Homo sapiens: one gene and its partners. The protein of the gene in region 2 interacts with the protein of the main gene of each other region in a pairwise test. Each region holds a gene or a part of one and is shown on either strand. Other genes may lie near its edges. The genes, in order: RBM5, PKP2, SMAD9, EIF4ENIF1 and PIBF1.

Region 1 (6,212 bases), on a different chromosome or scaffold from region 2:
CTAAAACTACAGAAATTAGCCAGGTGCGGTGGCAGGCGCCTGTAATCCCAGCTACTCAGGAGGCTGAGGCAGGAGAATTGCTTGAACCCGAGCGGCAGAGATTGCAGTGAGCTGAGATTGCGCCACTGCACTCCAGCCTGGGCGACAGAGTGAGATTCTGTCTCAGAAAGAAAAAAAAAAGAATGTAGGGGGCATATTCAGGGCTGTCATCATGTACCCAAGGTTCTGGGGAAGAATACGGTTATTTGTGTACACCAGGAGTTAATACAAGGTCTTAGAGACCATGTTGTGATGAGTTTAATTCTTGGAATTCAACTCTGTATTTCCCCTCTCTGTGTTTGGAGTCGTGAGTGCCCACGTAAGTTCAGGTGAGCAGAGAGGATGTGGCCCTGGAGACTGGTGCTCAGACATCAATCAGAAGAGCTACTCTAAGAAGCCTTGGCTTTAATTTTTGTTTCAGGCTTTAAAAAGCCTTGTGAGTTAAATCTTTCTCAACCCCAGAGCAAATATAGATCCTTTCTTCTCTTCCTTTTCTCTTCTTTTTTTTTTGAGACGGAGTCTCGCTCTGTTGCCCAGGCTGGAGTGCGGTGGCGTTATCTCGGTTCACTGTGAGCTCTGCCTCCCAGGTTCACGCCATTCTCCTGCCTTAGCCTCACAAGTAGCTGGAACTACAGGTGCCTGCCACCACTCCCGGCTAATTTTTTGTATTTTTAGTAGAGACGGGGTTTCACCGTGTTAGCCAGGATGGTCTCAATCTCCTGACCTCGTGATCGGCTCGCCTTTTCCTTCCAAAGTGCTGGGATTACAGGCCTGAGCCACTGCACCCGGCCTCTTCTCTTTTTCTTAGCCATGATACAGAATCCTTAACTTTGTATATCACATCTAGTAGAATTATAAGAAAATGAAAATGTCACAGATTCCAGGGTACTTAGTGGAAGTTAGCTTATGAAGAACTGACATATACAATGACAGAAGAAGGCTAGATTGGGCATTACAAATAAAGATGTTTGGGTTGGCGTTCAGTGCCTTGGCTTTCCCTAACACTTGTGTTTATCATCAGGCACAGCAGTGACCACCACCTCAGCGGCTGTAGTGTCCCAGAGTCCTCAGCTGTATAATCAAACCTCCAATCCACCTGGCTCTCCGGTAATCCTGTTGTCCTATATACAAAACTCGTGGCTGATGGGGAAATTTTGTTTTGCTATACAAGTATTACCCTTTCCTGTTGTATGAGCCAGGATTGAGTAATACACACTTCAACCTTATTTCTTTCTGTTGTTTTAAAATATTAATTTTATGATATATATGTGCATGTATATTTTAAATATAAAATTTCAACTGTGTATTTACACTTTATGCATGCTTGACCTTTAGAAAGTTGTCGCCGGGGCCGGGTGTGGTGGCTCGCGCCTGTAATCCCAGCACTTTGGGAGGCCGAGGCGGGTGGATCACGAGGTTAGGAGATCAAGACCATCCTGGCTAACACGGTGAAACCCCGTCTCTACTAAAAATACAAAAATTAGCCGGGCGTGGTGGCACATGCCTGTAATCCCAGCTACTCGGGAGGCTGAGGCAGGAGAATTGCTTGAACCCCGGAGACGGAGGTTGCAGTGAGCCAAGATTGCGCCACTGCAGTCCAGTTTGGGCAACAGAGCAAGACTCCTCTTGAAAAAGAAAGCAAAAAAGTTGTCAACATGTGTTTTGCTGAGGGATTGCCTTAGATTATTGCTACAGTGTGTCTGTCAGGGGAGCCCTTCCTCCTGGATGATTGCAGTGATTTAGCTCTCTTAAAAGGCTTTACAGTTGAAATTATATTGAAGCTGCTGTTCTTTCCAGACTGAGGAAGCACAGCCTAGCACTAGCACAAGTACACAGGCCCCAGCCGCTTCCCCTACTGGTGTAGTTCCTGGTACCAAATATGGTAAGCCAAACCTCATGGGGCTGTTGACAGTTGGAAGGTCTTAGTTGTTGTCTTTGTTTAATGAGAGTTCTTCTCCCTTTGCGGGTGTCAGAGGGACACTTGGGGATGTGAGACAGAGAAGAAACATTAGGCCTGCTGCATCTCACTGGCTTAGAATTTGAAATAAAGCCAATTTCTTACCTGGAATGACTGTATGCTGGATTTTGTTTTTGCAGCAGTACCTGACACGTCCACTTACCAGTATGATGAATCTTCAGGATATTACTATGATCCGACAACAGGGCTCTATTATGACCCCAACTCGCAAGTAAATGTGCTGCTTTCCTCCTCAATTTCACTAGAAGTAGTTTCGCTTAGTGCATTTATGAGGCATAAAATGAAATATTTCCTGCAAAAGAATATATGACTCAGATTAGTTTTAACTTCTTCAAAGCCACCAAAATGTAATTTTTATATGGAGATTGTAAGTTTTAATTGTAGGGTTAAAAAATGTTTTGAGGTATAATATACACACAAAAAAATACACAAAACAGAAATGTGCAATTCTTTGAATGTTTATACATGTCTATACATTTGTATATTACATGTGTATATACACCACCACTTATTCCCAGCCCACCTAATCCTCATGCCCATTGCTGGTCAGTAACCTATGTCTTCAATAACCACTATTTTGATTTCTGTTGCCATAGATTATTTTGTCAAGTTACAATTTATGGAAAGACCTAGCTAGAAATTTTAAATTGTACTTTTCTCCCTATTGTTTAACCTTTTAGAGTGTACAAATCAGTGGCTTTTAATATATTCACAGTGTTGTGTAACTGTCACCACTGTCTAATCTCAGAACATTTTCATCACTCGAAGAAGAAACCCTGTACCTGTTAAACAGTCACTCCCCATTCTGTACTCTCCTCCAGTAACTACTAATCTACTCTCTGTCTCTATGGATTTGCTTTTTTTATTTTTTTTGTGGCACGATCTTGGCTCACTGCAGCCTCCACCTCCTGGGTTCAAGCAATGCTCCTGCCTCAGCCTGCTGAGTAGCTGGTAGCTGGGATTACAGGCGCCCACCACACCCAGCTAATTTTTGTAGTCGAGACAGGGTTTCACCTTGTTTGCCAGGCTGGTCTCGAACTCCTGACCTTAAGTGATCCACCCGCCTCAGCCTCCAAAGTGCCAGGATTACAGGCATGAGCCACTGTGCCCAGCCCTCTGTTCTTGACATTTCATATAAGTGGAGTCAGACAATAGATTACCTTTTGTGTCCAGCATCCTTTACTTTGCCTCCCTGTGTATTCTTGAGGGTAGAATTTAGCAGATGTATGGAGTGATGTTTTATTTTTGGTGGCATATATAACTTTTAAAAGGGAAAAACAACTTTAACACCCCATAAATAACTCTATTTATGACCGGGAGCTGTATATATAGAACAGTAATAAGTATTTTTAACAGGAACTTGGCATTGATAGGTTGTGGTTTCTGAGAGATTGAAGTGTGAAGCTGTGTGTGACGTGCCTAAGCAGGCCAAGCCTCTGCATACCTCTTCCATCCACTTCTCTCATTTGTGAAGCCTGGCCATTTATTTCCCTGTCAGTTCTTTTTTTTTTTTTTTTTTTTTCCCGTCAGTTCTCTTTGGTGGCCTTAGAAGTTGTGTCTGTAGGCTGGGCGCAGTGGCTCACGCCTGTAATCCCAGCACTTTGGGAGGCCAAGATGGGAGGATCACTAGGTCAGGAGATTGAGACCATCCTGGCTAACACAGTGAAACCCCGTCTCTACTAAAAAAAAAAAAAAAATACAAAAAAATTAGCCAAGCGTGGTGTCGAATGCCTGTAGTCCCAGCTACTCGGGAGGCTGAGGCAGGAGAATGGCGTGAACCCGGGAGGTGGAGCTGGCAGTAAGCGAATGTCGCGCCACTGCACTCCAGCCTGGGTGACGGAGCGAGACTCTGTCTAAAAAAAAAAAAAAAAAAAAAAAAAAAAAAGTTGTGTCTGTTAGCCACGCCACCTTACCCAGAAGAGACAGACACTGTCTCCTGGGTCCCTGTTGAGCAGATAGAGTGAGCGACTGGAAAATAGAGGAGAGGATATGTGACACCTCTCCTCTGTTGCAATTCCTGCTGAGCTTGGGTCCCTTCACCAACACCTCCTTCCAGCTCTGTGCTAGTGTTTACACCCTGTGTGTGGTTGCCTGGTATCCAATGGATTCTATGTGGATGGGCCCAATGATGAGCTGTTGTCATGGCAGATGTCTGAACTCCATGACACGCCCACCTGTTCTGGCTGCCTGGTTTATGTAAATAGTCTGTGGAACAGAGTGAGACAAATTGCTCTTTGGGTGCCCTCTAGGTAGGCCCAGGGATTAAATTAATGGGAACTAGACTTTTTAAATTTTTATTATCATTTTTTTTGAGATGGAGTCTTACTCTGTTGCCCAGACTGGAGTGCAGTGGCATGATCTTGGCTCACTGCCACCTCCTCCATCTCCCAGGTTCAAGCAGTTCTCTTGCCTCAGCCTCCTGAGTAGCTGGGATTACAGGTGTGCCATCATGCCCAGCTAATTTTTGTATTTTTAGTAGAGATGAGTTATCACCATGTTGGCCAGGCTGGTCTTGAACTCCTGACCTTGGGTGATCTGCCCACCACCACCTCCCAAAGTGCTAGGATTACGGGCATGAGCCACTGCTCCCGGCTGGGAACTAAACTTTTTAAAGAAATCATATTCTATTTTTACTCTAGCAGTGTCACACCTCTTTGCTAGGTGGTTCATCACCTTTACTTATACCAAGGTGTGCCCAGGGTCTTTTCTGGGCAGGAAATATCACTAGTCCACAACATACTTTATCTTTTTTTTGACAAAATATGTAATCGACTGACATAGCAGAAAGTCTGCATTAATTGTTTTTTGTTTGTTGTTTTCTAGTACTACTATAATTCCTTGACCCAGCAGTACCTTTACTGGGATGGGGAAAAAGAGACCTACGTGCCAGCTGCAGAGTCTAGCTCCCACCAGCAGTCGGGCCTGCCTCCTGCAAAAGAGGGGAAAGAGAAGAAGGAGAAACCCAAGAGCAAAACAGCCCAGCAGGTTAGAACATGACCCATATTTCTTTCATTGAGGTATTGGGCTGAACTCTTAGTTTTGGGGTTGTAGCATTTATGTCAGTATTATTTGGATTCTTAAAAATTGGGCTTCACATTTTATTCATACTAAGTTCTTAGAGCATTTTGCAATTTGTTATTGTTACCATATCTTGACTGTCAGCCTGTGTACTTAGGGAAAAAAGCCCTGGAAATCTCAAAGCTTTTCAAGCAGTATTTATGAATGACTTTGGTTATATGTGATAACATCTAATGGAAATATTTGTAGGTGGAAGTAAGAGTAAAAGGGGTTTGTTACAGGGCATATAGTTGAGATAAGATCCTTAATGGCTCATTCTCATGGCACAGGGGATTAAATATTTTTTTGTTGGTGTTTGTTGTTTGACATTAGATTGCCAAAGACATGGAACGCTGGGCTAAGAGTTTGAATAAGCAGAAAGAAAACTTTAAAAATAGCTTTCAGCCTGTCAATTCCTTGAGGGAAGAAGAAAGGAGAGAATCTGCTGCAGCAGACGCTGGCTTTGCTCTCTTTGAGAAGAAGGTAATAGCAGGAATGGCCAGTATGTCATGATGGGAACTTACCTAAAACTTGAGTCTCATGGCTTGTCCTCTGTTTCCCAGGGAGCCTTAGCTGAAAGGCAGCAGCTCATCCCAGAATTGGTGCGAAATGGAGATGAGGAGAATCCCCTCAAAGTAAGGGAGTACCACCAGTGTTTTAAAGACCCTATCTGTGGTTTGTGTCTCACTTTAAGGCTCAACTGCATCTTGGCTAATGTGATTCCTACTTAAAACTGAATGTGATCACTGTTGATGGGTATTGGAGCAGTTTCTGCACATAGATTCCATGTCGGGGCTTTGTTTTCTGTGAGAGCAGATGAGATGGAGTGATGAAAGAAGCTTCAATTCCTAAGCTCAGTTAATTAAGTTTCATTGCATCTGTGAGTGGAGAGTTTTAATGGTCTGGAAAGAGAAAATTAAGACAAGAAAAAGCTTGTTTTACTAGATAGATACTGGTCTGGGTGGGCCATTATTCTGATATGTTGTATTTGGGATTTTTATTTGTGGTCAGTGGTTTGAAAATAGTCACTCAGTCTAGGCAACATTGCAAGACTTCGTCTCTACTGAAAATTAGAAACAAATTAGTTGGGTGTGGTGGCTTGCATCTGTACTCCTAGCTACTTGGGATGCTAAGGTAA
Region 2 (6,212 bases):
CAACTTAGGGAAAAACAAATAGAGACATTAAGTAGCTTGCTCAGGCCATAGAGCTGTAAAGTAGCAGAACCAGGACTGAAACTACAGCACTCTGGCTTTAGATGAACGCTGAGCTCTCCACAGTATGCTGTGTGCTTGAACCACAGTCAAAAGGAAAGTGTTCAGGCCTGTGAGCAAAAGGTATGTCTTACCTGTCAATCAGGTCCAGGTATTATGATGACATATCATTCAGTGCCTTTTATTGAGTACTTGTCCATTTCAGGAATAATGATCAACGCTGTAAACACAGAAATAAGTAAGATAATTGGCTTCAAGGAACCCACAGCCTCATCTGAAGTTGAGACAGTCACACAATTCATTACTATCAGTATCATAGAGAGAGAAATGTGCTTCAAGATGCCACATGAACACAGATGAAGGCACACAATAAAATTAGGCAGTATTTGTTAATTGCTGATAAACACAACACGTATTCAGAAGCTGTGGGGATCAGCAAAAGCAAAAGATGCATGCTCTCTATCTTTTAAGAAGAGTCTAAAGTGGTTAGAGGAAAAAGAGGAAAACATACATGAAAATAACTATTACAAAAAGTTTAAGCACAAGTTCACATTGACCAAAATATGTACCATAGGACAAGTTCCAGTGGATTTATCAAATATTAACACCTTTTAAGAATTTTCAATAGATTTTTGGGTACAGGTGGTGTTCAGTTACATGCAAAAGTTATTTAGTGATTATTTCTGAAATGTTGGTGCACATGTCACCTGAGCAGTGTACACTGTACCCAATGTGTAGTCTTTTATCCCTCACCCCTTCCTACCTTTCCCCCAAGTCCCCAAAATCCATTATATAACTCTTGTTCCTTTGCATCCTCATAGCTTAGCTCTCACTTATAAGTGAGAACATCCAATATTTGGTTTTCCATTCCTGAGTTATTTCACTTAGAATAGTGGTCTCTAATTCCATCCAATTTGCCGCAAAGGCCATTATGTCTTTCTTTTTAATGGCTGAGTAGTATTCCATGGTGTGTATATACCACATTTCCTGTATCCACTCGTTGGTTGATGGGCATTTAGGTTGGCTCCATATTTTGCAATTGTGAATTGTGCTGCTATAAACATGCATGTACAAGTGTCTTTTTCATATAATGACTTCTTTTCCTTTGGGTAGATACCCAGTAGTGGTATTGCTGGATCAAATGGTAGTTCTACTTTTAGTTCTTTAAGGAATCTCTATACTGTTTTCCATAGTGGTTGTACTAGTTTACATTCCCACCAGCAGTGTAGAAGTGTTCCCTTTTCACCATATCCATGCCAACATCTATTAAATTTTGATTTTTAAATTATGGTCATTCTTGCAGGAGTAAGGTGGTATCTCATTGTGCTTTTAATTTGCATTTCCATGATAATTAGTGATGTTGAGCATTTTTTCATATGTATGAGGCGTATCAAAAAATTTTTCTTATGCCATTTGTATATCTTCTTTTGAGAATTGTCTATTCATGTCCTTAGCCCACTTTTTGATGGAATTATTTGGCTTTTTTCTTGCTTTTTTGAGATCCTTGTAGATTCTGGATATTAGTCCTTTGTCGAATGCAGTTTGTGAATATTTTCTCCCACTCTGTGGGGTGTCTGTTTACTCTGCTGATTATTTATTTTGCTGTGCAGAAGCTTTTTAGTTTAATTGGATCCCATTTACTTATTTTTGGTTTTGTTGCATTTGCTTTTGGGTTCTTGGTCATGAACTCTTTGCCTAAGCCAATGTCTAGAAGAGTTTTTCCAGTGTTATCTTCTAGAATTTTTATGGTTTCAGGTCTCAGATTTAATCTTTGATCCATCTTGAGTTGATTTTTGTATAAAGTGAGAGATGAGGATCCAGCTTTATTCTTTTACATGTGGCTTGCCAATTATCCCAGCATCATTTGTTGAATATGTTGAATAGGGTGGCCTTTCCCCACTTAATGTTTTTGTTTGCTTTGTCAAAGATCAGTTGGCTGTAAGTATTTTGCTTTATTTCTGGGTTTTCTATTCTATTCCATTGGTCTATGTATCTTTTTTATTTTCTATAGCCTAATTGTGAAAGTGGCATGTCTATTTTTTTAATACCTTTCTTGTTAGTACAAAAAAAAAAAGCCAAACTCAAAACTTATAACCAAGAAGTTATATACATAGTAGAAAAGTACATTTAAAATAGTTTATTTCTCTTTTTAAAATAGTAGGCCAGGCGCAGTGGCTCACGCCTGTAATCCCAGCAGTTTGGGAGGCTGAGGCGGGCAGATCACCTGAGGTCAGGAGTTCGAGACCAGCCTCAACATGGAGAAACCCCATCTCTACTGAAAAAAAAAATATACAAAAAATTAGCCGGGCATGGTGGTGCGTACCTGTAATCCTAGCTACTCGGGAGGCTGAGGCAGGAGAATTGCTTGAACCTGGGAGGCGGAGGTTGCAGTGAGATGAGATCGTGCCATTGCACTCCAGCCTGGGCAACAAGAGCGAAACTCCATCTCCAAAAAAAAAAAAAAAACAAGAGTAGTATTACTTATGTATTGGAAAAACCTTGGGAAGCAAAGATTATTCGTTTATTATTTATTTACTATTTAATTTTACTTTTTAAAATAGAGACGGGGTCTCATTATATTTTCCAGACTGGTCTCAAACTCCTGGGCTCAAGTGATCCTCCTGTCTCGGCCTTCTAAAGTGCTGGGATTACAGACATGAGCTACCTTGCCTGGCCTTAAAAATGATTTTAGCTTGGCCAGGCGCGGTAGCTCACGCTTCTAATCCCAGCACTTTGGGAGGCCCAGGCGGGCGGATCACAAGATCAGGAGATCAAGATCATCCTGGCTAACAAGGTGAAACCCCGTCTCTACTAAAAATACAAAAAAATTAGCCCGGCGTGGTGGCGGGCACCTGTAATCCCAGCTACTCGGGAGGCTGAGGCAGGAGAATGGCATGAACCCGGGAGGCGGAGCTTGCAGAGAGCCGAGATCGCGCCACTGCACTCCAGCCTGGGTGACAGAGCAAGACTCTGTTTCAAAAAAAAAAAAAGATTTTAGTTCACTATTAATATTGTTGTAGAAAAACAGCTCCTATTAACATTTTTCCTCAGGTTTCTTACGTGGGTTTTTTGGTAATAGTATGTATTCTTTTTTTTTTTTTTTTTGAGACAGGGTCTCTCTCTGTTGCCCAGGCTGGAGAATAGTGGCGTGATCTCTGCCCACTGCCACTTCTGCCTCCCAAGCTCAAGCAATTCTTGTGCCTCAGCCTCCTGAGTAGCAGGGACTACAGGCACAGGCATGTGCCACTACGCCCAGCTAATTTTTGTATTTTTAATAGAGACAGGGTTTCACCATGTTGGCCAGGCTGGTCCTGAACTCCTGACCTTAAGTGATCCACCCACCTCAGCCTCCCAAAGTGCTGGGATTACAGGTGTGAGCCACCGAACCTGGCCAATAATATTATGTATTATTTATATAAATATACTGATTTTTCACATACACTATTAACATAATTATTTTCTTTTTATTATACATGCTTCATAGATAGGTTTTGTGATGAATAATAGTCTTTGCAGGTGTGTTTTAGTTAATCATAGTCCTATTATAAGGATATTCAGGCTTTTTAGTTTTTCAGTTACATGTAGTACTGTCATAAAGATCTCTGTAGAAAGCTTTTTTCATTTTCAAAGTGATATTTTTAAGATGTATTCCTAGACATGGAATTACCGAATTGAAGAAGATGAAAATGTTTTAAGTTCTTGACATTTCTGCCAAATTACACTCTGAAAAGATTTTCAATATACTGAGCACAGAGTATCCTCTTTTCAAATATTTTTAAAAATTTGTTATTAGGGAAATTACATCTTTCCATGTGTTGTTAACCAGCTGTGTTTCTTTTTAAGAAAGTTCTTGGCCGGGCGCAGTGTCTCACGCCTGTAATCCCAGCACTTTGGGAGGCCGAGGCTGGCGGATCACGAGGTCAGGAGATCGAGACCATCCTGGCTAACACGGTGAAACTCCGTCTCTACTGAAAATAAAAAAAAATAAAAAAATAAAAAAATTAGCCAGGCGTGGTGGCGGGTGCCTGTAGTCCCAACTACTCGGGAGGCTGAGGCAAGAGAATGGCGTGAACCCGGGAGGCAGAGCTTGCAGTGAGCCAAGATGGTGCCACTGCACTCCAGCCTGGGCAACAGAGCAAGATTCCGTCTCAAAAAAAGAAAAAGAATGTTCTTCACCCAAAATATATTGGGATCTTGGGATTAAGAAACAATCTTTTTAATCAAGTGTTTTGTTTTTTTTTTCATTTTGTAGCCAAAGAAACTCTCCCTGATTTGGTTTCCATCATTCCTGACACAGTCCCGAGTACTGACCTTCTCATTGAAACTACAGCCTCTGCCTGTTACACATTGAACAACATAATCCAAAACAGTTACCAGAATGCACGCGACCTTCTAAACACCGGGGGCATCCAGAAAATTATGGCCATTAGTGCAGGCGATGCGTAAGTCCTTCAGTTCTGCCCGTCAGCTGCCTCCCTTTCCCCTCACCAGCCTGTGTGTAAATAATCCGGTTGTGAATGTGCGGTCATGACCATCATGTGCAACATGGCAGCAAACAGGATGTAAAGCCAGGCCAGATCATCTGGTCAGCCCTCAGTGATCAGCCAAGGAAAGAACTGAATCCACCACACCACATGCTTGTCCCTTCTCTTCTAAAGTATCAACAGAGGGTCAGACTCCAGAACTTCTCTTGGTTGTGCATTCCAGCATTGTATTGGCCTAATGAATTAGTTTCCCAAAGCCACAGCTGTGATTTAATAACAGCAGAATGTAGGCAAAGCAGGAGTCCTCTGAATAGGCAAGTGCCCTTTTCCTCACTTCCATCTTAGGAGGGGATGTCACACCAGGTGGTTTAGAAGAAGCAGTGATGGGCTGGGCACAGTGGCTCATGCCTGTAATCCCAGCACTTTGGGAGGCCCAAGCAGATGGATCACTTGAGGTCAGAAGTTCGAGACCAGCCTGGCCGACATGGCAAAACCCTGTCTCTAGTAAAAATACAAAAATTAGCTGGGTGTGGTGGTGCGTGTCTGTAATTCTAGCTACTTGGAAGACTGAGGTTTGAGAATCACTTGAGCCCAGGAGGCAGAGGTTGCAATGAGCCGTGATCGTGCCACTGCACTCCAGCCTGGTTGACAGAGTGAGATTCTGTCTCAAAAAAGAAAAAAAAAAAAAAGCAGCAGCAGCAGTGATGACACAGGAGAAGCAGTCAGGGGGTAGCCTGATGAGAAAGTCTTGCTTTCACAGTTTTTTCTCTGTCTTATCTCTTCCGCATCTTATTCCCTTTTGATAATAGAAGGTCCAATGCATGTCATTCCACATCTGTGTTCCTGTTTTCAACTTTTCCCTATTAAAAAAAAAAAGGAGGAGAATGAAAAACCTTGTATAACCAAATTATTTACTATTAGTTAATTTAGAGTGATGAGATTGGAAAGGGGCATGAAGATTATCTTTTTCTCTTTATACAATTCTGAATTGTTTGACTTATTACAAATAGATATGTTACTTTTGTAAATAACCAAACAAGAAAAGAAATGGCTATGATAGCCTAGTTTTAATGAGTTACAAAGCAGATGACTTCACCTGTACTGAAGAAATGTGTGCTTGGCTGTACAGGGATGTACATGTTACCTCTACTACAGCCCCACCCAATTTAGGCCCCTTCTGCTCTGCAGCCCCACTCTGCAGTGCACACAAGGAAGGAAGACTGCATTTAGAGTCAGATTAAAACAAGCCCTGAGCACTGGCTGGAGTGTCAGTTCCCCAAGAATATTCACCCATCCCCAGAGGCTGGCAGATAGTATTAGAGTTGCTCAGTCTTTGTGGAAAGAGTGAATTACTGTTGCAAAACAGAAATGACTTTTCTTCCAAATAGTCATCCAAACTTCCAAGCAAATCACCGTAAGATAGTATGATGCTCATTATTCGAGTATTCAGACATAACAATTGTTGCACATGGCAATATGCAATTACTTTTGGAAACTTCTGGTAGCTTAGCAAGATAAGGGGTGAGCTACTCTGTTACTTGTTTATTTCCGAGTGTCCACTTGTGAGTCCTCACATGCCCTGTCTCAAAAACAAAAGTTAACAAGGAGCTTCTTGCCAGTGGTGTCTGCTGCTCTTTCCTTACTAGAGTGTTATATATCTGACCTACCGTT
Region 3 (6,212 bases), on a different chromosome or scaffold from region 2:
TTTGATGGATGGTAGCGTTCAACTGAAGTGCCAGGAGTTGCTTTCTGAATTCTTGTATCTAAATTTAACTGACTTGGTAGTACCACATTTCAGGAGTTAATGGTAACGCAGAAAGGGATTCACAGATTCCATCAGTTTCCCACTTTGTGGCAGAATATTTGACATCTCTTATCAGTACACTTCATCATAAGTTCATGAATTCATCTTGCTCCTTTCTTTGCTGAGAATCACAGTGAGAGAATTGGAGTTTGGCTGAGAGGAGGAGTGAGGAAGGAAGAAGGAAGAGTAAGTTTTTTTTTGTTTTGTTTTTGTTTTTTGAGATGGAGTCTCTCTCTGTCGCCCAGGCTGGAGTGCAGTGGCACCATCTCGGCTCACTGCAAGCTCCACCTCCCGGGTTCATGCCATTCTCCCGCTTCAGCCTCCCAAGTAGCTGGGACTACAGGCACCTGCCACCACGCCCGGCTAATTTTTTGTATTTTTAGTAGAGACAGGGTTTCACCATGTTAGCCAGGATGGTCTCGATCTCCTGACCTCATGATCCGCCGGCCTCGGCCTCCCAAAGTGCTGGGTTTACAGGCGTGATCCACCGCGCCTGGCCCGAGAGTAAGTCATTTTAAGGCTTGGGCAGTAGCACTGTTGAGAAGTTTGAGGCACCTAAGTGTGGAAAGAGGGTGTTACAGAAAGCAGATTGGCAGATGCCAAAGGTAGACATCACATATTTGAATTAGTGTTAGTAGTATGAAAGGCACCTGCGTTGTGAGTTGAGAGGATCCTAGTGAGCTGGCCAGGGAAGTACATTAGCACTCATGACATTGTTCTAGGGGAAGGTGAATTCCAGTTTCCAAATAACTATGCAGGATTGAACACCATTTGTTCATAAAGCAAGACCACCAGTGATTGATGATATGGGTGATTATTATTAATGACATAAGTGATTATTAGAAGCCAAGAATGGTGGTAATGAATGTGGAAGATGAAAAATGTGTTAAGCTAAAAAGATTTTAGGTCTCATGTGGTTTTCTTTGTCTTGTTTATGCATTTAGTCATTCTTTGTTTTCTAGTGGAAGTAGAATTTTATTTTTAGGAATAGGAGTTGAATAAAATATTTGTCAAAGACAAACATTTATGGACATGAATGCTTCCCTTTCAGCTTATTGACTATATGTTTACACAAAGCAGTCATTAGGTGTTGGCTGTGTTTGCAAATAATGACAAGTTGGTATTATTTCAAAGGAGTGGCAGTTTTACTTGCTTTCTGTTGTCATTGCATCTAATTTTATTACAAGATATTCTAAATACACTTTATTTTTTTAAAGTTGTATTGATTATATCTTGGGGTTTTAAAGTGTTGCAATTTTGTGGGTGTAGCAATCACTTTAGAAGGTGGAACTTGTAAATTTATGGGGCTTGTATAGGATATTCATTCAACCATTATTTACTCTGTGTCTATTGTGTCTACCCTGCCTATGAGGCCCCAGAACAGGCCCTGGGGACTACACAACGAAATGAAGTGACAAAAATAAAATCCTAGTCTCCAGGATTTCATAGTGTAGTTAGCGTGAAAGAGATCAAGAAAGCAAATATTAAAATATTTCTCCAATAGTAAGATGTCTTACTTCCCCAAACTGTAATCTATTTGGGTTTATTTCTCTATTCAGCTGGCCCTGTGAGTCAGCAGTTTCTGCATCAACAGATTCAACCAACCACAAATGAAAAATATTGGAGAAAAAATTAAAAATAACACAAATAAAAAATAAGATATAAAAACCATTTACATAGCATTTACAGTATAGTAGGTATTATAAGTAAGCTAAGATGATTTAAAGTATAAGGGAGGATGTGGTAGGTTATATGCAAATATACCATTTTATACGAGGGACTTGAGCATCCTTGGATTTTGGTGTCTGTGGGGATTCTGGACTGAATCCCCCATAGATACCTGGGGATGACTGTATTTTTCCTGATTAGACTTCCGTATTTTCTGTGTGTGAATTTTTAGTTAGTCTTGTCAAGGATAATGAGAATGATCTCATTTGGGATTTGGGAGGTAAACTAGAAGGTAGAGGTAAAATAGAAGACATAAACAGGAAGAGATTCTTTCAGTAAGTCCTTATGAGAACTTAGAGATGCTGAGAACATCCCTAGGCCATGGAATTTCACTACTTCCTGAGTCTGTCAGGAGGAGGATCCAGCCTTTGTACAGTTTCCTCCTGTTTTTCCCTGCTACCCTTTACTGGTTCAAGGGTGAGTGAGTTTGCATGGCTGGTCCTATAGGAAACCCCACCCAACCCTTTTAGCCAGCCAGGGGCCTCCAGACCACTTTGAATACACTCTTCTAGTAACTGTTGTAATAGTGCACCTATTACTTGCCTGATAATAATATGTTTAGATTGCTGTCTCAATAGTAGTATAGAGGAAAGGGACCATGTCTTATCTTGAAATATTCAGCTGCTAGGGTAGTGTCCACTTCATTGTTGATACTTGAACCACTCCACCTTTCACTTCCCTAAATATGTTGGGTTTTCAACGATCCCACCTTTCTCTTCCCTAAATAGGTTGGTTTTTGTAGGGTAAGGTGGAAGGAAGGGCAAGGAATTTGGATTTAATCTGTAGGCAAAGGAGAACTATTCAATTTTAACCCGTAGTCATGATAACTATTAAATGGTTTGAACAGAAGAATCACATAATCAAAGGGGTATTTGGAAGAGTGAAGACAAATTCAAGTGGTTTGCATGCTTTTAAATGGCCACAACTCCTAGCTAAGCAGTTGACACACCATCTCCACTGCTTCATGCTTCTCTTTAGCAAATAAAAATCTGAGCTTCCCCGACTGGGTGCGGTGGCTCACACCTGCAATCCCAGCACTTCGGGAGGCTGAGGTGGGCGGATAACCTGAGGTTGGGAGTTCAAGACCAGCCTGACCAACATGGAGAAACCCCATCTCTACTAAAAATACAAAATTAGCTGGGTGTGGTGGCACATGCCTGTAATCCCAGCTACTGGGGAGGCTGAGGCAGGAGAATCGCTTGAACCCAGGAGGCAGAGGTTGCAGTGAGCTGAGATTGTGCCATTGTACTCCGTCCTGGGAAACAAGAGCAAAACTCTGTCTCAAAAAATAAAAAATAAAAAATAAATTGAGCTTCCCCGAACAGCAGTTCATAACACGGCTTATTTGTGATTCTTTATCAGTTTATGAACTCCACCCGCCCCCCCCCCCCCCAGGCAGCCTTTGGCCGGGAAACAGCCTTCCTCGAGACACACATCTATAAAATTTTAAAAATTGCCCACACATCATTAAAAATATATATATTAAACAGATGATTTATAGTCATTTAATACTTTACAAGTATTCAGACAGATTATGCTCTATATAATATTACCTTAAGTAGATAGACTATGCATAGGAAGTAGGGAATGCATTATATAATTCTGTCTTTCAAAGAAATTTATTGTATTGCGTTAGTAAAGCAATGGGCTTTAGGTTAGAACTTCAATTAATTACATGGGGCTTAATGATACAATAGTTGGCCAGGTGCAATGGTTCATGCCTGTAATCCCAGCACTTTGGGAGACCAAGGGGGGCAGATTGCTTGAGCCCAGGAGTTTGAGACCAGCCTGGACAACATGGTGAAAACCCTTCTATGAGAAAAATATTTTAAAAATTTAGCTGGTCTTGGTGGGGCGTGCCTGTAGCCCCAGATACTCAGGAGGCTGCAGGGGGAGGATCTATTGAGCCTGGCAGGTTGAGGCTGCGGTGAGCCATGATCACGCCACTGCACTCCATCCTGGGTGACAGAGCAAGACCCTTTTTCAAAATAGTAATAATAATATTAATAATACAATAGTTAATGGTATTGATAAAACTGGATTTTACTTTCATTCATTCAACATTTATTGATGGCCTCCTGCATGCTAGGTAGGTAGTACAGACCACAATGTGGCTTGGCTTGTGGCCTGATAGAAGGCTAGGCATCTCTGGAGAAAACACTTACCAAATCTGGGGATTCAAGTGTGGTAAGTGCTGTTGTGAGTGACTAGCACATGTTAGGTGCTGTGGAAGCCCAGAGGAGCAGCAGAGAGCTGATCAGTGCTGTTGCCTGGGGGCCTCCAGGGAAGGTTTCCAGGAAGTTGGCTTCCAGCTCTGTTTTGAAGAAGGAGCAGGAAAGATAGAGCTGCACAGGGGCCTTCTGGGCAGGGAGGGAAGGAGTGATGGGCAAAGGGAGTGAAAAGAGATGAGGCTGGGAATGTAGTCTGGGGAGGCCAGATTGCGAACAGCCTTATTTGAAATTGATGTTACAGGCGTCAACTCACAACCCCCACCTCATGATATTTAGTGGGCTTTTAAGTGTAAAATGTATGGATACAGACTCAGAGTAGAAATTTGGGAGATTCACTCTTGGTGGTGTACATTCTGTGGGTTTGGACAAGTGTATCATGACGTGTATCCACCATGGTAGTATCAGGCAGAGTCGTCTCATTGCCCTGCAAATTCTCTGTGGTCTGTGTTTTCATCCCTCCCTCTTCTCATATTCACTATGGTTCCATCTCTACATTTGAACATAGTGTATTTGAGGATCCTGGAGTCAATGGTGGTTAAATTTTAGTTTAAAGAGCTTGTTTTTAATTTTTTTTTTTTTTTGAGACGGAGTCTCGCTGTGTCCCCCACGCCGGAGTACAGTGGCGCGATCTCGGCTCACTGCAAGCTCTGCCTCCCCGGTTCATGCCATTCTCCTGCCTCAGCCTCCTGAGTAGCTGGGACTACAGGCGCCCGCCACCACGCCCGGATAATTTTTTGTATTTTTAGTAGAGATGGGGTTTCACCGTGTTAGCCAGGATGGTCTCGATCTCCTGACCTCGTGATCCACCCGCCTCGGCCTCCCAAAATGCTGGGATTACAGGCGTGAGCCACTGCGCCCAGCCGGTTGTTTTTAATTTTTGGGGCACCTCTTAACTCCCACAGTGAAGCCTACAGGAGGAATAAACAGAAGTATACCTCCATGTTGGTAATATACAATATTATCTTAGTTTACAGTTTTCAAACTGCTTTCTCTCACATCCCCTCAGTACTTCTGCACAAAAGGTAGTGACTATTGTTTCCATTTTACAGAGGAGGAAACAATATGGAAGTGACTAATTACTTGAAGATGACAGTGATGGTACTAGCACTCAGACTGGAGTCTTCTTCCTCCATTCTTGTGTTTTATTCATTATATCATGTTGCCTCTTGCTTCTGGAAGCATTAAATTGTGGGCCCTTCCAAACTTAAATAATAAAATAACACATTTGTGGGGTGGCATACAGTGTTTCCAAGAATATGCTGACTATATGTGTGTGTAAATTATATACAGTTTATTACGTATGTGTAAAGAATGTAGGTTGCAATACTAGAAACTTACACCATGATCTCTACAAGGTAGTGCTGGCCTTCTCTTGTATCACTGTTATGTTGGCTTATCACTGAAATGTTTAAATATGATCTTAATATTCAGACTATTACATGGAAAAATATAGAACATTCTAAACCTACCTTAAGTGACCCAAACTATTGGGCATGACCTTTAGACTCCTGTCTTTGCTGCTTTAATGCCCATTCTACTTCCCTTTCACTACATAGCAAACAGGCAATGGAATAGTGGTTCTGTCTTCCAAAGAAGTGATAATGAGCAACAATAAAAACTGTATCTAGTTTCTTTAATTTAAAAAATAATTCAAAATCTCCGTTGAAACTTTAAAAATGATATCCAATCAATAGTAACATTCTAGCCAAAAAAACTGTACGAGTGGCCAAGAGAACTGTATTTTAGGGATGTAAGTAAATGTAGACCAAGGCTTCCCAAGTGGCTTATTAAGTATAAATTCCAGTGACATCTGCTTACCATAGTACTTCATTGCCATGAGCACAAGGCTGCCTGGTAAACCAAGAGTCTTCATTTGGGCCACATATATCCCTTGTAGTCATGGCCTTCAGTTTCATGTGAAATTCAGTGTGAATATAAAAAATCCAGCCGTTATTGGAGAGTCTCTGATTTTACAGTGAGATTGTGTGTGTTCTTTCTCCTCCCACCATAATTAGTTGTTTAGTTGCTAATTTGTTTTTATTTTCACTTCTTTTTTTTCCTTTTGACTATTTTATCAGATGCGATTATTATGTCACTTCCTCTGGGCCACAGTATACCCAAATTCAGGAGTGATGATGATGTATTTTTAAAATG
Region 4 (6,212 bases), on a different chromosome or scaffold from region 2:
AAATAATGCTGACTTTTAAGTGCACTAATTTTGTATTAATTAAAATATAAGATAAGCATGATACATCACTGTGAAAAATTGGGGAGTGTATCCAAAATATAAGCATCTTAGTGATAAACAGGAATTCTAAAAATAACTTTAAAAAGCCAGGTGCGGTGGCTCACGCCTGTAATCCCAGCACTTTGGGAGACCAAGACAGGAGGATCACAAGGTCAGGAGTTCAAGACCCGTCTGGCCAACATAGTGAAACCCCATCTCTACTAAAAATACAAAAATTAGCTGGGCATGGTGGCACACACCTGTGATCCCAACTACTCAGGAGGCTGAGGCAGAAGAATCGCTTGAACCCAGGAGACGGAGGTTGCAATGAGCCAAGATCGTGCCACTGCACTTCAGCCTGGGTGACAGAGTAAGATTCCAACTCAAAAAAAAAAAAACAACAAAAAAAGAATTTTTAGTCTAACACCACCAGCTTAAAAAAGAGTTAACTGGTACAAAAATCTCATATTATCCATTAAGCCTCTCAAAACAAAGCCAACAAAAATTTAAATATGTAAGAATAAAAGCCAAAAACCCCAAAAGCATCTAGCAAAACAACACTTTCAAACCGATGTCTTAAATACTCAGGTCAAATTTAACCACACATTTTTTAAGTGTGCTGCTACACTCACCGAAGCCAAGCATGGCACCTTATCAAGGTTAAAGAACTCATTAAAGTCAAAGTCTCCTGGGGACTGCTCAGGCAAGACAGCATCCCTTGGCACTTCCTGATCAGCCGCAGGCTCCTGTGCAAGGATGACCTCCACTTCATCCTCTTCGGCCACTCCTCCATTGCACTCTACTATACCTGAAAGCAAAACCAGGACAAAAACCGTCTGATAAGTAAATCACTCCAGTGTCCCTCTGTGGCTTCAGCCATCAGTATACATGTAGAAGAGCCACACATGACTTAAAAAGCAGACTTCTCGTGCAGGTACTGTACTTGCAAGAATAAAACAGTCCCCCTTCTACGGGAGGCAGAAAAGGAAAAAAGCCTTAATAAAGCTAGAATACCAATGGGATGTGGGGAGGATTATGGTTCCCTTCGTGGGAACTTCATATTTTCTATAGTGGAGGGGGGTCTTTTTTTTTTTTTTTTTTTTGAGATGGGGTCTTGCTCTGTTGCACAGGCTGGAGAGTAGTGGCACGATCACAGCTCACTGTAGTCTCTACCTCCTGGGCTCAGGTGATCCTCCTGCCTTAGCCTCCAGAGTATCTGGGACCACAGGTGCACACCACCATGCCTGGATAATTTTTTAATTTTTTGTAGAGACTGAGTCTCGCTAAATTGCACAGCCTGGACTTAAACTGCTGACCTCAAGTGATCCTCCTGCCTTGGCCTCCCAAAGTGCTAGGATTACAGTAGTGAGCCACTGTGTCCAGCACCATGCCTAGTTCTTTTTCTAGTGATTTTTTTTTTAAAGGATAGTCTTTGCAAGTCTCTTACTGCTTAAAAATGGAACCAAATTAATTTAGCTCTGCTTCTGCCCATGCACCTGTAGCACCACTTTCAGTCAGGGCTCAGCAACCTAAGGTATTTATGAGAAACCTGGCATGAGGGCAATTTTCACTTGCCTACAGGTTGGTTGTTGTAGCTCATCCTTCAAGGCGAAATTCAAATGTGACCTTCTCTGGGAAGCTTGCCCTGCCTACCCATTTTTGCCCTACCTAGTAAAATTAATTGCTACCTTCTCTATAATCCTTATGTCATCTCTGAGTACTTGTCACACTGTATAATAGTAACTCTCTGGTGAGGCTAAACTCTGAGGGTAGGGAACCTGGTCTAACCAGCTTTGTCTTACTCTGTAGTGCCAGGTATACTCTACAATGTTCAGTTGTTTTTAGGATGGGGAGACAAAGTGAAACTGCCAGATGCTAACATTTAAGGCATCTGACATCTTAGTTTTTAATGTTTTTATTTATTTTAAATACATAGCAAGGGCAACCTAGAGACATTCTGTAGTTAGCTAATGGGATGAACCAAGACCCCTGGATTCTACTCCAGGCTCTGCCATGAAATCCATCCCTTCTCTCCAGGTCTCAATTTCTCTCTGCATCTGTAAAATAAGGAGGTGCCACTACCAATCTATCTCACTCCTGACTCCTGCACTTGATACAAGAATGGTTGAAATTCAGATTTCACCTCACTTAAGAAAAACATAATTTTTTCTCACCAGAAGCCTGATCTTTATCGTTAAAGTGGTGCTTTATTGGGTGCTGCTTTAATTAAGAATGAGACAAAGACATATCTCAAAGCCAATTTAATAGCAAAGTCTTCCAAGTTACCTATCAATTTCTTACATTATCCTAGGGAACACTGTGTGATAGCACAAAGATAATGGTAATATGTACTATATTTTGAAGACTACAAAAGAAGATGAGTATTTTGATTCTCCATTTCCTTCTCCTTCTAAATAAATGCCATCAGCTTATTTCTGCTTATATTTGTCTTCATCAAAATGTTAAGGTGGCACTGATTTTTCCCTTATTTATTAAAATAGCTTTCCCAGACCAGGCGCAGTGGTTCACGCCTATAATCTCAGCACTTTGGGAGGCTGAGGCAGGTGGATCATGAGGTCAGGAGATTGAGACCATCCTGGCTAACACGGTGAAACACCATCTCTACTAAAAATACAAAAAATTAGCTGGGTGTGTTGGCACGCGCCTGTAGTTCCGCTACTCCGGAGGCTGAGGCAGAATTGCTTGACCCTGGGAGGCGGAGCTTGCAGTGAGCCAAGATCGCACCACTGCACTCCAGCCTGGGTGACAGAGCGAGACTCCGTCTCAAAAAAAAAAGAAAATTAATTAAAAAAAAAAATAGAGGACTGGCGCAGTGGCTCACGCCTGTAATCCCAGTACTTTGGGAGGCTGAGGCGGGTGGATCACGAGGTCAGGAGATCGAGACCATCCTGGCTAACATAGTGAAACCCCATCTCTACTAAAAATACAAAAATTTAGCTGGGCGTGGTGGTGGGCGCCTGTAGTCCCAGCTACTCGGGAGGCTGAGGCAGGAGAATGGCGTGAACCCGGAGGCGGAGTTTGCCGTGAGCTAAGATCGTGCCACTGCACTCCAGCCTAGGCAACAAAGCAAGACTCCATCTCAAAACAAACAAACAAACAAAAAACAAAAAAAAAGGCTTTCCCCTTTTGTTGCCTAGTATCTGCCAAAAGGCTTTCAACTAAGCCTGAAAGCTTGAGGCAGGTAGAATTTACTGAGTGCCTTCTTGGAGGCTGAGTTCTGATGGGTACATGTGTTCTTCAATGCTAAAGGTAACCCTTAAGTTATGATAGGCATTGTTCTTCCCTTTACAAAGAAACAGGCCCAGCTGTCAAAATTTTGTCAAAAATTATCCTTTTCTAAGCAGGAGCCCTAGTACTTTAACCCAGGTTAGTCCCCACCTGGCTCTACAGTGCCTCCTTCCCAAGACCATCAGCCTGGGACTGGCCACCTTAGAGCCAGGTCACTGCCCTAAAAAATGATTGGCTGCAGACCAATGGGCTCCCACTCTGCAGCAGGTACTTCACACACATTAGCTCTGGCTCCTTCAGTTTAGCAAGGGAGATATCTGACCCCATCTTACAGCTGAGGAAACTAGGTTTTTTTGGTTTTTTTGGAGACAGAGTCTCAACTCTGTCTCCCAGGCTGGAGTGCAGTAGCACAATCTCGCTGCAACCTGTCTCCTGGATTCAAGCAATTCTCCTGCCTCAGCCTCTCCAGTAGCCGGGAGTACAGGCATGCGTCAACACACCCAGCTAATTTTTGTATTTTCAATATAGACAGGGTTTCACCATGTTGGCCAGGCTGGTCTCAAACTCCTGACCTCAAATGATCCACCCGCCTTGGCCTCCCAAAGTGCTGGGATCACAGGCGTGAGCCACCGTACTCATCCTGAAACTAAGTTTGAGAGAAGGCAAATCACAAACAACTGACCTGGGAAGGCCTAATACCATGATGAAGAAGGTAGGCTCTGATGCCCAGAAGCATCTTGCTTTACTCTTGACTTCACTACTTATTTCCATGGTGACTACCTTAAGTGTCCTTGAGTTACTTAAGCCCTCTGAGCCTCCATTTGCTCATCTATGAAATGGGCATAAAAAAGTACCTACACTGCACAAGGTCATTAGGAGATGAAGGATTACACAGACAAAATACACTCACCACTGTGTTTAGGACATAATTGCTCAATAAATGAGACCTCTCATTTTTCTACCACGTTTCTTATTTCTGGGGAACTCTTTCATGTACACAGTCCTCTTACAGGATAACTTCAGACTTTTCTGTTTAGTGTGGCAGGCAGAACGAGTTAGGGAAACAGTATGATCTACACTTAGTGAATCCTCACTTAAGCAGTTGCAGGGGCTGGGCATGGTGGCTCACACCTATAATCCCAGCACTTTGGGATGCCGAGGCGGGTGATCACCTGAGGTCAGGAGTTCGAGACCAGCCTGGGCAACATGGTGAAACCCCATCTCTACTAAAAATAGAAAAAATTACCCAGGCGTCATGGCAGGCACCTGTAATCCCAGCTACTCGGGAGGCTGAGGCAGGGAAGAATCGCTTGAACCAAGGAAATGGAGGCTGCAGTGAGCTGAGATGGTGCCACTGCACTCCAGCCCGGGCAACTGAGCGAGACTCCGTCTCAAAAAAAAAAAAAGATTTCAAAATCAGGATGCATCATGAAAAACTTGCCATTTCCTATACATCTGGTGCCCATTCCTAAGTGTACAATTAGCCAGTGATAATCACATCTCTATTTTATTTTTGAGACAGTCTTGCTCTGTCACCCAGGCTGGAGTGCAGTGGTGTGATAGCTCACTGCAACCTCTGCCTCCCAGGTTCAAGCAATTCTTGTGCCTCAGCCTCCCGAGTAGCTGGGACTACAGGCACCAGCCACCACACCCCACTAATTTTTGAATTTTTGTGGAGACGGGGTTTCACCATGTTGGCCAGGCTGGTCTCAAACTCCTGACCTCAGGTGATCCGCCCACCTCGGCCTCCCAAAGTGTTGGGATTACAGGTGTGAGCCACCACGCCCAGCCTACATCTCATTTTAAAACAGCGAACTTCCCTCCCAAAGTTTGAACTGACCTTCCTTCACAGAGGCTGTCCGTCGCCTTGTTCTTTTTCTCCCTTTGTGATCTTCTTCTAGTATCTTATCATCAAAGCCAGTCAGTTCGATGGTTTCAGACTGACTTGTGGGTCCAGCAGAGAACCACTCTGGTTCTTCTTCTGTGTAAGAATCATTTCTTCTACGCTCACCAAAGACACGCTTACTATCTCCAAACTCTCTCTGGAAAAGTACATAAAGCAAGATTAAAAAATTTCTAGTCAAGCCATTTCTACTTCAGTCAAGGTCTTCGTTGTAATGTTCAATAGTGAAAGGAAGATATGATGCTGTATACCTGAGGCCCATCACCACCCCCACCCCTTCCTCCCTGACTGGTTTAAGAGCAGGCTGTGTTCATGCCTGTTCTCAAAGTAACCTGGTATAAAAAAAGTGAATATCAAGTCCCCAAGCACATGAACTACCAAAGAATCTAGAAGACAAACCCAGGTCGGGTGTGGTGGCTCACGCCTGTAATCCCAGCACTTTGGGAGGCCGAGGCAGGCCGATCACCTAAGGTTGGGAGCTTGAGAGACCAGCCTGACTAACATGGAGAAACCCCGTCTCTACTAAAAATATAAAAAGTTAGCCGGGTATGGTGGTGCGTGCCTATAATCCCAGATACTGGGCTGAGGCAGCAGTGAGTCAAGATCGTGCCATTGCACTCCAGCCTGGGCAACAAGAGCGAAACTCCGTCTCAATTTAAAAAAAAAAAAAAAAAAAAAAGACAAACCCTGAAACGCTTGTCCTTGAAGTCCCTCTCTCGGTCTCTGTCTCTCAAGTCCCGCAGGTCCTTATCGCTAAGACGGTGATCCTTCTCAAAGGTCCGGGCAGAGATTATCCTCCCACTGCCAATCCTACGTCCACCAAGCAGACGAAGCCCATCACTATCTTTCTCTAATGGACTTCCTGAGCGCCGGGAGCTAACAGCGGCTGTCACGTGGCAGCCCCCTCCAAAGCTCCGTCTCTGAGGGCTGAGAACAACATCTAAGTCATCTTCTTTCACACGCTCTCGTGGATCTGGAAGGACGTGGGAAAGACAAAGTTAAACAAACCAACAAGGGTGTT
Region 5 (6,212 bases), on a different chromosome or scaffold from region 2:
GCTTCTCTTTTGCCTTCCGCCATGATTGTGAGGCCTCCCCTGCCATGTGGAAGTCTGAGTCCAGTAAACCTCTTTCCTTTATAAATTACCCAGTCTTGGGTATGTCTTTATTAGTAGCATGAGAGCAGACTAATAACATCAGATTGTCCCTTCCTGATCAGAATCTTTCAGTAGGCAACTAACAATAATGTCTGCTACATGTATTCTTTGAGAATGATGAGTATGTGCAGATTACTGTTTTCATTACCTCATTGGTTGAGTGAATACCTTATGGTGGTTCAGTGTTACCATCTTAAAGAGATATCCTTGAAGTATCAGGATAAAAGGGAAATGAAAATTACTTTAATAAGTAGAGTCCTTGATGTTTAACATTAAACCTTAAGCAGAAGAAATATATAATTTTATAATTTGAATTTCTAAAATTATTCTTTAAGAATATCAATTCTCTGTTTAATAATTTATATGGTTACACATTTAATAATTAGTATGGAATTGTCATTTCATATTTAACTGATTAATATGAGTAAATAAGTATTTAGCTGGAGTAAGTAAATAATACTGTCAGGTTTCTGATTTCCTAACTTTATGTTGATATAAATAGGAAACTGTGAGAAAATTAGATCTCAAATACTTTTTTAAAGCCTGCCATAAATTCTCTTCTAATGTAGCAAATATCAAGAATTAATGAAACAAGAAATGGAAACCATTTTGTTGAGACAGAAACAACTAGAAGAGACAAATCTTCAGCTAAGAGAAAAAGCTGGAGATGTTCGTCGAAACCTGCGTGACTTTGAGTTGACAGAAGAGCAATATATTAAATTAAAAGCTTTTCCTGAAGATCAGCTTTCTATTCCTGAATATGTATCTGTAAGTATCTTATATCTATTTTTAACTATGACATATATTTTCAGACTAAAATTTACCATTTATATAGTAGCAATTACTTTTGAAGTACCCAATTGATACATTATTTTATGGCTATGGATGGTGAATGGTGTTGAGATCCAAATTTTAAAGGATCATGACCATTGATCTCCAAAGTCAAGCAATAAATAGGTTTCTGAAGTTAATGACTGCATAGTCCATAGAAATGAATTATCGTAAACTGGTGGTTTCTTACATTCTCAAAATGAAAAATTATAAACAACAGAGTAGTTGTTGCCAGGGGTTGGTTGGGGATAGTGGGAGAGAGGAGTCAGCGTGGTTATAAAGGGATAGGATGAGAAAGAACTTTGTGGTGAGAGATTGGCGCAAGATCTTGATTGCAGTGCTGGTTACACAAATCTAGAACACCTAGGATTAATCTATGGCAGTGGTCTCAAATATTTTGGTGTCAGCATTCATTTACATTCTAAAAGTTATTGAGGACCCCAATGAGTGTTTGTTTATATGGGCTGTATCTATTAATATTTACCATACTAGAATTTTAAACTAACAACTTTTTTAAACACAAGAATAAGCACACAATTCCATTGGCCTTAAGAGTGATAATGTCATATGTCATGTAGCCACTGGCAAACTCCACTGAACAGTCATGAGAGAATGAGAATGAAACGGGGAAAAAAAATCTTAATAATTACTAGGAAAGTCGTTTTGATCTTGTGAATTCCCTGAAAGGATCTCAGAGTGGCGAGTGGGGCAGAGTCCAGGAGTCCCAAAACCATATGTTGAGAACTGCTGCTTTTTAATATGTAGATGTCATTTTACCCTGAGAGGCTTGAATTTTTTAATCCCTAAAAAGGGTTAATAGTAACGGTGCGTTTCTATTGGGGATAATTGTAAAGACTATAACTATGTATGTAAAATGCTTGTGAGCATAGTGCTTAGAAGATAGTAAACACATAAAAATGTTGTCTATTGTTTTTGCTGGAGTGGTGGTTGCTATTCTTGGTTCTCATTGGGAAAAGATTTGCAGATTAGTGATGTCTGATAAAATGAAGTTACTTTTTTGTTCAGCTGTTTTTTTTTTTTTTTTAAAAGGCTCAAATACAGCTTTTCTGTCCAAAGTATACTGTCCAAAACAAATTAAATATCTCAAATTCTGTTTTTGAGGCTTCATTTACAGTAGATATAAAGTATCACACTGGTGGCAGTTACACATATTTTTGCTGTTTGTTTTCTTAATATTCCTTCTTACATCTTTTGTTTTCACAGACAATATTATCCTTAACTAATTAATTATATGCAGATTCTTTTTGTTGAGGGCTAGTATTAAGATTTGCCTCTTACCAAATAATGGTATTCTTGTAATACCGTCATATGTTAAGGAGTTTCAGATTGCATGCCTATATGATAGCCCCTAATTACTCTCTCCTAATTTGCTGTGATGATTTCTTAGTTTTATGGGACCTTGTCAGATGGAACACTTTACTGAGCTAGGGTAGGAAAATTTCTCTGAGACAAGTATGAGTGGAAAGAGAGACCTGAACTAAATGGAAGTAATGATGTGAAAGATACCTCTTGATTCATTCTGATTAGACTTCCACTGTAGGGACAGCAGTAAATAAAGCTTTGCCAAGAGCCTGGGATGAAAATAAAGAATACACTTTACCTCTTCATCAAGTATTTATTGAGTGCTTATCATATATTTAGGCATTGGAAATACAGCGGTGTATAAACCAGACAAAAATCCCTGCCCTCAGGTTGTGAAAGTGGAGCAACACAGGCAATAACTTAAAAATTAAATATGTAGAATATCTGTTTGTCAAAGGTGCTACAGAGAAAAGAGCAGGGGTGAAAAATAGGGAGTGCTACTTAAAATTAGGTAAAGAAATCAGGGAGGGCTTTACTAACAAGGTAATATTTGGTCAGAGACCTATAGGGAGACAAGGCATGAGCCATGCATTTATATGGGGGAAGAACTTCTCTAGCAGAAGAAACAGCAAGAGCAAGACTCCTGAACATTTGTGATATGTTCCAGAAGTTTACAAGCACCTAGTGTGGAGTGAGCAGTAGTAGATGAGTAGTAATGGAGTGTCAGTAGAAGGGAGGAAATACTGTCAAAGGTAAGAGGTTATAAATCATCTGGCCCTTGAGGGAAGTTAATTGAACATTAAGGCTTGATAGAAAGTATTAGTGGCTAGGGTCCATTAATGACTGTCTTGTTGTAGTTTTGTAAATATTTATCTTTATTACTGATAAGTGAGAGCACTACAAATTACAAATTTTAATTGTAATTTGGATTTAAGACTGCTTATTAATTTAATTTTTTTCAAGGTTCGCTTCTATGAGCTAGTGAATCCATTAAGAAAGGAAATCTGTGAACTACAAGTGAAAAAGAATATCCTAGCAGAAGAATTAAGTACAAACAAAAACCAACTGAAGCAGCTGACAGAGGTTTGTATGGTTTTGATTGCTGGTGGGAAGAAGCTTCGGCTTTTTCTGTAGAGTCCCTCAGGATTTGTGATAAGGCATATAAAAGTCAGTGATTGAAAAATGGGACTATGGGATGGTGACTGCTACAGTTCAATAATGGGAAGGAGGTTAAATTGGAAGTAGTCATCTTAAACATTGACAAGACAAGTCTGTGTTATTGACGTATCCTATAGTTGAGCTTTTATTGTTGCAAGTCAATTTTATAATCAACTGCTTTTGAAATCCTAATATGGGCTATATCTGAAAATTGCTGTGTATCCTTAGATGACGCATATGCATGTATTTATTTAGTAATTTGTCTCTATTTTTAACATCACTTTGTCAGGAAATTTAAGCAAGAAACAAGAAATGTAGGCCAAGCTATGCAGGGGATCTCTTGCAGGTGCCATAAGAAAGAAGAAAAGGAGAATATTTTTACTTTGAACTAAGTTGACTCGTAGGTTCTGGTTTGCCTAAGACTGTTGCCATTATTCCTGTGAATAAATATTAATAGCACCCCTTTATTTTCAAAATTATCTCAGCCTAGACGATGAATATAGTAATCATAAATCAACATTTATATAGAAGGGTGGACTAATCATTAACTTGGTTGTATTATTGACCAGATATCCTAGAATACTATCTTGTAGTTATAGTCTACTAACAAAAAAATAATGGTAGATTGATTCATTCTACCATGTAACAGTTGGAAATGGGTGGCTGTTTTTCTTCAAATATTTCGTTATTCTAAAAGGAAAACACTTCTAGTTTACAAATGGGGGCTGCTGCAGTTCTTCATTACAAGTTAGCCTTGTTCGTGATATGAGATGGAGCTACTGTCCATTTATTACTTACGTGGCTTCTTTGTGAAGTGCAGTTAACTCTCATAATATTTATTCTGAGCATGTGTACTGATACTAGCATTAACCCCAGTGGTGTGCATGGTGCTGTGCTAGGTGCTGGCAGTGAACCCAAGAGAGGCAATGCCTGCCCTTCTAGAGTTTACTTTCTAGCAGGTTAGGATTAGAACGTTAGGTGATATTTTGACACTCTCATTTACTGTGTGACCATGACCAGGTCATTTAATGTTTCCTGTTCTGTCAAATGGAGAAAATAATACTGTTTGTTCATTTATTTAATTGCATTGCCTATATTTCTGTTTCAGAGTAAAAACATGATTTTAGCAAAGTTGCATACAAACATTTATGTCCTATTTTAAGGGCAGTTTTTGTCAATGATATTATCCAGAAATAAATAATTATAATTTAATTTGTATTTTTAATGCTCTACTTTGCTGTACTATTAGTCTTAGAGATAATTTACTTAAGTCTTGCCATAGAACCAATATTTCAGACAAAATAAGAAGGCTTAGCTTCCTCTCCTCTGAGGAGCAGTGACATCAGCAGGAGCAATTAGAGGGGCAGATGTGCCCCCACTCCAAACTTCAGTTGTTTTCTTTTCTTCTCCTAGCATGTCATATTGTGCAGGTAAACTGTTTTGCACATTTAGAAAGATAGTTCAATTAAAAAAAAAATTCAACTGTAGTCAAAATAGTAGAGAACAGAGAAGGCCACTGTTTGGCCACTTTCTAATTTTGCAGCCTTGGGCAAATCATTTATACTCTATTGTTTCTGTAAAATGCCCAGGATGGTTTTGGTGGTACAGGGGTTATTGGGGAAGAGGCAGTTAGACAAGGTCTTAGCGTTGGTTCTATACACCTTATGGTACCTCAGCATCCCTCAAGGACTTCTTACTGTGTAGTAGGAGGGCTGGAGGAGCTCCCTATCCTTGTTTTTATCAAGCCACCCTTTTTAAAATAACCTTAATATTTGGGACTTCTCAGCATGATTTCTCTTGAACACAGATTCCTCAGGCCATTCTTAGAGTTTGTGGTTTTTCTGCCCTGTCAAGGACCTGGTACAGGTCAACTTGCCAAACACTAGGAAAAAAGTAAATATTTTTAAATAAAAAGCAAAACCAATATCATTAAACAGCTTTATTTATTTATTTAAACAGAGCCTTGCTCAGTCGCCCCAGCTGGAGTGCAGTGGTGCCATGTCTGCTCATTGCAACCTCCACCTCCTGCGTTCAAGTGATTCTCGTGCTTTAGCCTCCCCAGTAGCTGGGCTTACAGGCATGCGCTACCACACCTGGCTAATTTATGTATTTTTAGTAGAGATAGAATTTCGCCATTTTGGCCAGACTGGTCTGGAACTCCTGGCCTCAAGAGATCCACCTGCCTTGGCCTCCCAAAGTGCTGGGATTACAGGCGTGAGCCACTGCACCTGGCCAAACAGGATGTAGTAAACAATAAATAGTACTACTCAATATTCAAATAAATGTCACATATTCTGGAGTTTATTTTTTGAAATGGTTCATTAAATTATTTACTGCTATTTATTTGAGGAATTAAAAGACATAGTTTCTCATCTCTGCGACTTGATAACAATGTGATGATCTTGGATAAAAAACAGTCTGTCTCCTATCTTAACAGCTTCTCCGTCCGTAAAATAGGGACGATAACATGTAACACCTACCACACGTGGTCATATTATAAAGAATGAAATTCATTCAATAAATGTGTATCCTGCATTTACTATATACGGCATGCATTATTCTTGGTACTTGGGATACCTTGTTAAACAAAACAGTAATCCCTGCCATCATGGAGTTTATATTTTTAAAGGATATCTGTGAGATGTATATTGTATTTTAAAAGGGAAAACAATAGCAAATCATGTAGTGTGACAAAAGTTGATAATTGTAATAGAAAAAAGAAAAAAATAGTTCAAGATAAGGTGAATTGAGTGCTATATGGAGAGCAGGGAAGAGAGCATTGTCAGAATTCTGTAAGGTTG

Evidence for each region.
Region 1: the proteins of PKP2 (region 2) and RBM5 interact in a two-hybrid assay, tested with the Homo sapiens proteins (one large-scale study listed by BioGRID).
Region 3: the proteins of PKP2 (region 2) and SMAD9 interact in a two-hybrid assay, tested with the Homo sapiens proteins (one large-scale study listed by BioGRID and IntAct).
Region 4: the proteins of PKP2 (region 2) and EIF4ENIF1 interact in a two-hybrid assay, tested with the Homo sapiens proteins (one large-scale study listed by BioGRID).
Region 5: the proteins of PKP2 (region 2) and PIBF1 interact in a two-hybrid assay, tested with the Homo sapiens proteins (one large-scale study listed by BioGRID).

Annotation. Positions count from the first base shown.
Region 1 is NC_000003.12:50,108,543-50,114,754, forward strand, and holds part of RBM5 (RNA-binding protein 5), read left to right. Parts: intron 1-1,060; coding exon 1,061-1,146; intron 1,147-1,836; coding exon 1,837-1,921; intron 1,922-2,136; coding exon 2,137-2,228; intron 2,229-4,840; coding exon 4,841-5,002; intron 5,003-5,407; coding exon 5,408-5,557; intron 5,558-5,637; coding exon 5,638-5,709; intron 5,710-6,212. UniProt on the Homo sapiens protein: Component of the spliceosome A complex. Binds to ssRNA containing the consensus sequence 5'-AGGUAA-3'. Regulates alternative splicing of a number of mRNAs.
Region 2 is NC_000012.12:32,794,396-32,800,607, reverse strand, and holds part of PKP2 (plakophilin-2), read left to right. Parts: intron 1-4,309; coding exon 4,310-4,499; intron 4,500-6,212. UniProt on the Homo sapiens protein: A component of desmosome cell-cell junctions which are required for positive regulation of cellular adhesion.
Region 3 is NC_000013.11:36,908,624-36,914,835, reverse strand, and holds part of SMAD9 (mothers against decapentaplegic homolog 9), read left to right. Parts: intron 1-6,212. UniProt on the Homo sapiens protein: Transcriptional modulator activated by BMP (bone morphogenetic proteins) type 1 receptor kinase. SMAD9 is a receptor-regulated SMAD (R-SMAD).
Region 4 is NC_000022.11:31,457,804-31,464,015, forward strand, and holds part of EIF4ENIF1 (eukaryotic translation initiation factor 4E transporter), read right to left. Parts: intron 6,165-6,212; coding exon 5,878-6,164; intron 5,331-5,877; coding exon 5,129-5,330; intron 848-5,128; coding exon 672-847; intron 1-671. UniProt on the Homo sapiens protein: EIF4E-binding protein that regulates translation and stability of mRNAs in processing bodies (P-bodies). Plays a key role in P-bodies to coordinate the storage of translationally inactive mRNAs in the cytoplasm and prevent their degradation.
Region 5 is NC_000013.11:72,794,691-72,800,902, forward strand, and holds part of PIBF1 (progesterone-induced-blocking factor 1), read left to right. Parts: intron 1-668; coding exon 669-867; intron 868-3,216; coding exon 3,217-3,336; intron 3,337-6,212.